Homo sapiens: one gene and its partner. The protein of the gene in region 1 purifies or fractionates together with the protein of each later gene. This does not show direct contact. Each region holds a gene or a part of one and is shown in the gene's direction. Other genes may lie near its edges.

The links.
Region 2: the proteins of CCNQ (region 1) and MYH14 purify together in Homo sapiens (affinity purification with mass spectrometry, with the first as the bait; one large-scale study listed by BioGRID). This does not show direct contact.

Annotation. Positions count from the first base shown.
Region 1 is NC_000023.11:153,596,946-153,600,854, reverse strand, and holds the start of CCNQ (cyclin-Q), read left to right. Parts: upstream 1-1,715; 5' UTR 1,716-1,781; coding exon 1,782-1,893; intron 1,894-2,692; exon of another isoform or gene 2,693-3,433; intron 3,434-3,909. UniProt on the Homo sapiens protein: Activating cyclin for the cyclin-associated kinase CDK10.
Region 2 is NC_000019.10:50,276,386-50,280,194, forward strand, and holds part of MYH14 (myosin-14), read left to right. Parts: intron 1-371; coding exon 372-516; intron 517-1,697; coding exon 1,698-1,904; intron 1,905-3,651; coding exon 3,652-3,756; intron 3,757-3,809. UniProt on the Homo sapiens protein: Cellular myosin that appears to play a role in cytokinesis, cell shape, and specialized functions such as secretion and capping.

The DNA of each region.
Region 1 (3,909 bases):
GAGGCAAAGTGGTGAGATCCGAGGCTGGTCAGTTGATAGGGTGACTCCACAAGGACCAGCATGTGAGGTCAAGGCCTCACATTTTCTCCTGAAGGTGAAGGGACTCCGGAGGGTGTTAGGCAGGGCAGGACCTGTTCAGCCTCGCCTTTTAGAAAGCTCGCTCTGGCGGCTGGTATTGTGGGGTGAATGCCAGCCCCCAAAAGGTGTGTCCGTGTCCTAATCCCTGTTACTGTGACCTTATTTAGCAGAAGGGCCTTTGCAAGATGTAATGAAAATAAGGATGTCAAGATGAGCTCCTCCTGGATTATCTAGGTAGGCCCTAATCCAGTGACAGGTGTGCTTATAAGAGACAGACGAGAAGACAGGGAGAAGGCCATGTAGAGACGGAGGCACAGATTGGAGTGATGGGGCCACAAGCCCAGGAAGAACTCAGGCTGCAGAAGCTGGAAGAGCAAGGAAGAACTGATCCTCTGCCAGAGCCTTTGAGGGAGCAAAGCCCTAGTGTCACCTCCATTTCAGGTGTCTGGCCTCCAGAATTGAGAGAGGATATACTTCTGCTGTTTTTAGCAACCCAATTTGTGGTCATTTGTTACAGCAGCCCCAGGAAACTAACCCAGCTGGGATGGAGAGAGGACTTGGGGAGGCTGGTGGAGGCAGGAAGTGCTGAGGAAGGAGAATGAGGCCGGACTGGGTGTGTGGGGTGGGGGTAAGAGGTGGAGACTTCCACACCATCAGGAGATCAAGGCGCCTGGGCAGAAGGGTTTAGGGAGCAGTAGCTTTTTCCTCTCCATATTGCCAGCTGTCTGAAATTGTAGCAATGATCTGAATGTATCAGAATGACTCCAGTGACTGTCACTAACTTGGGAGTGAGTACCTTTGGGGTTCTATGTCCCTAAAGCCTGATGCACCATTTCCTGCTTGTGGAAGACGCGAATGAAAAATGAGATGGTAAATACCTGAGTTCGATATTCAGCATTCATTCAGCAAACATTTATTAGGCTCCTACTGTGCGTCGCGCTGGAAAGGCAAGCAGAAGCTAGATTCCCAATCGATCCCGGGAGGCTGGACGATCCAGACACAAACACCGTTCATGCGTCTATTCGAAAAGGCCCTCTTGGAATTTTGTGCACAGCATTTCCTTGGGGTGTCGATGGATCGGGGTCTGCAAACATTAGCACCTTTTCCGGTGGCCGCTGTCTTCTCAGACCTCAGACACCGGCGCCTCCCCGTGAACTCCCGCAGGCGTCCCTAGCCCAGGGCTTGGCGGGCGCTGCCGGTTGTACCTGGCCTAAGCCACGCTGGGCCGACAGCCCGGGGCGACACCCCCTTCGGACGGCGGGGATTTGCGGCTCGGGTGACCGGAGGTGCCCTCCCGCGGGTCTCGGAGCAGCTCCGCGGGCTCTCGCTCCGCGGGGAGGAGCCTGCGTCTCCCAGGGGCGGGGCTCGAGGCGCCTAGGGGCCGGTGGACACATACCAGCCGCCCCGTGGTGTCGGCCTCTGCGCCTGCGCCTGCGCCTGCGCGCGCGGCCAGGCAGCGTCTGTGGCGCAAGCGCGCGCTCACCCTTGGGCGAGGGCCCTGAGGGGCGGGGCGGGGCGGAGGAGCGGCGGGGCGGCGAGGGGCGGGGCGGGGCGGCGAGGGGCGGGGCGGGGCGGCGAGGGGCGGGGCGGGGCGGGGCCGGACGCGGCCGGGTGGGGCGGCAGCGCCCGCCGCGAGCACCTCCAGTTCTGCCGGCTTCTGCGCGCCGGGGCCGCCTCTCCTTCCGCCGGTGCCGCGGCGCCTCATGGAAGCCCCGGAGGGCGGCGGAGGGGGGCCTGCAGCGCGGGGCCCGGAGGGGCAGCCGGCGCCCGAAGCCAGGGTGCACTTCCGAGTGGCGAGGTTCATCATGGAGGCAGGTAACCGCGGCCGGGGGAGGCCAGGACAGGCGGCGCCGCGGCCCGCTTCGCGGAGCGGGCCCGGCTGGCCAGGCCGGCCTTCTGGAGTGCTCACCGTAGCAGAGGCCGGGAAGCCCTGCTCGGGGCTGAGGACCTCCGCCTTTGCGCCGCGCCCGGTGTGCTGAGCAGTGAGCCGCGAGGTATCCCCATGGCGTGGACCGGTGTGCAGGCCCTAGGAGAGGACGTGGCCGGGTTGGGCCTCCAGCGAGGCGGAGACCGGCCCGGGCGCCCGCAGCTCTGCGCAGTGCGCCACGCCTTCTGCCGGCACCCGCGGCCCTGCACTCCGGTAGACTTTATGGCGCTTAGTCGCGCGGAGCCTTTTGGAGAACGCTGTCCGAGGGTTCCTGTCACTCCGGGGACCTAGGCTGCTTGCAGCTCCTGTTCCGAACCCTGCCAGGACATCCACAGTAGTGTTGGGCTCCGCGCTTCCCAGGCGAGGTGATTAAGCTAAGATCTCTGTAGAAACATCGTTTCCATCCAGCCATCAACAGTATTTTTTTTTTTTTCGAGACGGAGTCTCGCTCTGTTGGCCAGGCTGGAGTGCAGTGGCGTGATCTCGGCTCACTGCAACCTCCGTCTCCCGGACTAAAGCAATTATCCTTCCTCACGCTTCCGAGTAGCTGGAATTACAGGTGTGTGCCACCGTACCCGGCTAATGTTTGTATTTTTAGTAGAGACGGGGTTTCACCATGTTGGCCAGGCTGGTCTTGAACTCCTGGCCTCAGGTGATCCAGTTGCCTCGCCCTCCCAAAGTGCTGGGATTACAGGCGTGAGCTACCTCGTCCGGCCCATCAACAGTATCTTGATAGGAGATACTGTTAGTTGGCGGGTAGTTATTTCCTACCTTTACTGCTTGGGGGAGAAGGGTTGGGCAGATGTGCTTTCTACCCAAGGTGGGCGGAGAGTCTGAGGACTGCTGCAGGACTGTTCATCCCAGTGATATGTAAATTTACTGTAATTTGCAAGAAGAGTTGCAAAGTTATTATTAGGGAAGGATGGCAGTGACACCTCATCTGCTACCGTCTGCTCGGAGGGTCCGTGTAAATTGGGGTTTGCTCTGTAAAACAAAGCTTGGAAGGTCATGTCAGTAACAGCACCTTATCTGGCATCTCCTGGAATGAGGGGTCCCAGGTAGGAATTGTCTTTATATAACAAGTTTAGACCTTCTGAGGGACTTCTTTATAAAATGTATTACACAATCCTTTGTCCTTTGTAGGAGGCTAAATATTGATTTCCCAAAGATGTCCCTATCCTAATCCCTGGAACCTGTGAATGTCATCTTATATAGCAAAAGAGATTTTGAAGATGTGATTAGAGACCTTAAGATGGGAGATCATCCTAGATTATCTGGGTGTAACCACACCCATCCTTATAAGGCAAAGGCAGGAGGAGTCACCGTCAGAGAAGGCCACGTGAGGACAGAAGCAGAGTTAGAAGCTTTGAAGATGGAGGAAGGGGCCAGCAACCAAGGAATGCAGCCCTCCTCTAGAAGCTGGAAAAGGCAAGGAAACATTCTCCCATGGAGCCTCCAGAAGGAGCCAGCCCTGCTTAGACGTTGATCTTAGCTTTCTAGGCTAGTTTTGGACTTCTGACTTCCAGGATCGGAGGAGTATAAATGTGTGTTGTTTAAGTGGCTGAATTTGTGGTGATTTGTTGCAGTAGCCCTAGGGAACTGATCTACCTTCTTAGGCAGAGGATGCTGACTGTCATTTCATGGTTGATTGTCGGTTGTTCTTCGCCTTTCTGTTTTGGCCTAGTGGATGTCATTTAACCTTGTCTTGTGAACCCTGGTGGTTGTGAATTTGTTTTGGTTCTGTGCACCAGGGCAGTGATTTTCTTAGGAGCCATTCAGGGATGGGCTGGGGATGGGCTTTAACCCCTAAGTAGAATCCACTGAATCCTGCTCTGGTGTTTTGAGTTTTGTTCACCTTAAAAATTTTTTTCTTTCTCTTTTTTGTAGAGACAGGGTCTCACTCT
Region 2 (3,809 bases), on another chromosome or scaffold:
CTTGGGAACTTCCAGTCTCAGGGGAGGCAGATTCAGGCAAAGACAATCTCAACCCAGAACAAGGGGTGCTTTAGCGGAGTAACACGGGGCACTGTGGGTGATAAGTGAAGACCCCTAAACCAAGTCTATGGGAGATCCAGGAAGACTTTCCTGAGGAAGGGCCTTTTGGAAAAGGGTTTTGAAAGGTGAATAGGAGTTCACCCTTAAAGCCACACTCCTTCCACAGCATCACCACCCAGATCTCCTGAGGAGCATAACATGAGGCCCTCATATTTTAAGGAAACATGAAAAGGAGAAACAACCAGCTCCCCCAAAGCCCCTGCCTTCCTCTGCTCTGAAATTCCCATCCTCTCTCCTTTCCCCCAATAAAGGTCCAAGAGGGAACAGGAGGTGACGGAGCTGAAGAAGACTCTGGAGGAGGAGACTCGCATCCACGAGGCGGCAGTGCAGGAGCTGAGGCAGCGCCACGGCCAGGCCCTGGGGGAGCTGGCGGAGCAGCTGGAGCAGGCCCGGAGGGTGGGTTGGGGCAGGGGGACAGGGCAGGGGGGCCACGGGGAGGGCAGGGCAGGACGCGGGGTTGGAGGAGGTACCGCTGGCTGGTTCTAGGCTAGCTCATCTCCCTGGGCCCCTTTCCTCACGCATTCATGTGCATCTTTCATTCAGCAAGCATTAATGGGGTGTGGACTATGTTCCAGGAGCATTGCTGGGGAACCAGCCATGAACCCAACAACCAGCACTGCCTTCCCTTGTGGAGCTTTCCTTTTAGTGAGAGAGGCAGAGGGTAAACAATATAAACACTTTCAGTTTATATTGGGGTGATAAGTGCTATGGGGCCATAATGAACAGGAAAAAGGGATCAGAATTCTAAGGCGGGTGAGTTTTTAAGTAGAGAGGCTGTGGAGGTATTCTGCGAGAAGGTGACATCAGGGTAAAAAACTGAGGGAGTGGCCGGGCATGGTGGCTCTTGCCTGTAACTTTGGGAGGCTGAGGCAGGCAGATCACTTGAGGCCAGGAGTTCGAGACCAGCCTGGGCAACATGGTGAAACCCCATCTCTACTAAAAATACAAAAACTAGCTGGGCGTGGTGGCACACACGCCTATAGTCCCAGCTACTTGAGAGGCTGAGGCAGGAGAATCACTTGAACCCAAGAAGCAGAGGTTGAAGTGAGTCAAGATTGTACCATTCCACTCCAGCCTGGGTGACAGAGCAAGACTCTGTCTCAAAAAACAAACAAACAAACAAAAATGGGCCAGACGTGGTGGCTCATGGCTGTAATCCCAGCACTGTGGGAGGCTGAGGTGGGTGGATCACCTGAGGTCAGGAGTTCAAGACCAGCCTGGCCAACATGGCAAAATCCCATCTCTACTAAAAACACAAAAAATTAGCCGGGCGTGGTGGTGGGCGCCTGTAATCCTAGCTACTTGGGAGGCTGAGACAGGAGAATCACTTGAACCTGGGAGGCGGAGGTTGCAGTGAGCAGAGATCGTGCCTTTGCACTCCAGCTTGGGCAACAAGACTGAAGCACTGTCTCAAAAAAAAAAAAAAAATTGGGAGTGAGGGGTGAGCTATTTGTTCACTGGGAGAAGTGTGTTCCAGGCAGAGGGAACAGCCAGTGCAAAGGCCCTGAGATGGGAGTGTGCCTGGCCTGGTCCAGGAAAGGCCTCATAGATCTTTGCTCATCTCCTTCCCACACCAGGGCAAAGGTGCATGGGAGAAGACCCGGCTGGCCCTGGAGGCCGAGGTGTCCGAGCTGCGGGCAGAACTGAGCAGCCTGCAGACTGCACGTCAGGAGGGTGAGCAGCGGAGGCGCCGCCTGGAGTTACAGCTGCAGGAGGTGCAGGGCCGGGCTGGTGATGGGGAGAGGGCACGAGCGGAGGCTGCTGAGAAGCTGCAGCGAGCCCAGGTAAGTGGGGTGGGCAGGGCAGAGGTTTCTGCTGTGTGACCTTGGTGACATGCCTGCCCTCTCTGGGCTTCTATTTGGTCCATATCAAACCAATTGTCTCGTTTGGCTCTTCCAACATAATCATGTACAAGTCTGGGCACAGTGGCTCATGTCTGTAATTCTAGCACTTGGGAGGCCAAGGCAGGAGGATTGCTTGAGCCCAGGAGTTCGAGACCAGCCTGGGCAACATAGTGAGACCCCATCTTCAGAAAAAAAAAAATTTTAATTAGCCAGGTATGCTGGCATGTGCCTGTAGTCCCAGCTACTCAGGGGACTGAGGAAGGAGGATCCCTTGAGCCTGGGAGGTCGAGGCTGCAATGAGCTGTGATTGTGCCACTGCACTCTAGCCTGGGCAACAAAGTGAGATCCTGTCTCAAAATAATAATAATAATACCCAGTACTTTGGGAGGCCGAGGCGGGCAGATCACCTGAAGTCAGAAGTTCGAGACCGGCCTCACCAACATGGAGAAACCCTGTCTCTACTAAAAAAAAAAAAAAAAAAACACAAAATTAGCCGGGCGTGATGGCGCATGCCTGTAATCCCAGCTACTCGAGAGGCTGAGGCAGGAGAATCACTTGAACCCGGGAGGCAGAGGTTGTGATGAGCTGAGACCGCGCCATTGCGTTCCAGCCTGGGCAGCGAGAGTGAAACTCCATCTCCAATAATAATAATAATAATTCACTCATTTAAGATGTGCAATTCAATGGATTTTGGTATATTCACAGAGTGGTATGGCCATCACCATAATCTAATTTTGGACCATTTTCATTATCCCAAAAAGAAAATCCTATACCCTTTAGCTATCATCCCCCACTTCTCCCCCACCCCACCCAGGGAACCACTAATCTCCTTTCTGTCTTTACTGATCTCCCATTCTGGAGATCTTATATAAATGGAATCCTACTATATATGGGTGGCCTTTGTGGCTGCCTTCTTTTACTTAACATAACGGTTTCAAGATTCATCTGTGTTGCAGCTCGTAGCATAATTCCTTTTTTATTTTTTAATTTTTAAAACACCAGCTGGGTGCAGTGGCTCATGCCTGTAATCCCAGCACTTTGGCAGCGGAGGCGGGTGGGTCACCTGAGGTCAGGAGTTCAAGACCAGCTGCCTGACCAACATGGTGAAACTTCGTCTCTACTAAAAATACAAAATTAGCCGGGTGTGGTGGCGCATGCCTGTAATCCTAGCTACTTGGGAGGCTAAGGCAGGAGAATCACTTGCACCTGGGAGGCGGAGGTTGCAGTGAGCCGAGATTGCACCATTGCGCTCTAGCCTGGGCAACAAGAGTGAAACTCTGTCTCAAAAAAACCCCAAAAAACAACAGCACGCAATAGATCCATATACCTTTCTATTGCCGAATAATGCCCGTTGTATGGATATTCCACATTTGTTTATCCATTCGTTTATTGATGGACATTGGGGCTGTTCCCGCCTCTTGGCGATGGTGAGTAATGCCACTGAGAACATTCCGGTACGAGTTTCTGCATAGACCTATGCGTTCATTTCTTTTGGGTATGCACCTAGGAGCGGGATTGTTGGGTCATGTGGGAACCCTATGTTTAAGCATCTGTGGATCTGCCAGACTGTTTTCCACGGCAGCTGTAACATTTCACATTCCTGCCAGTGTGGTAGAGAGTTGAGGCAGATGGGGTCACTGGGTGGAAGCCACGATTGGAGGGCTTCATTCCCGTCCCTTCCCTGCAGGCTGAACTGGAGAATGTGTCTGGGGCGCTGAACGAGGCTGAGTCCAAAACCATCCGTCTTAGCAAGGAGCTGAGCAGCACAGAAGCCCAGCTGCACGATGCCCAGGTGACCCTGCCTGCCCTTCGGCTCCACCGTCACCCTCCCCTCCTTGTCCTCCC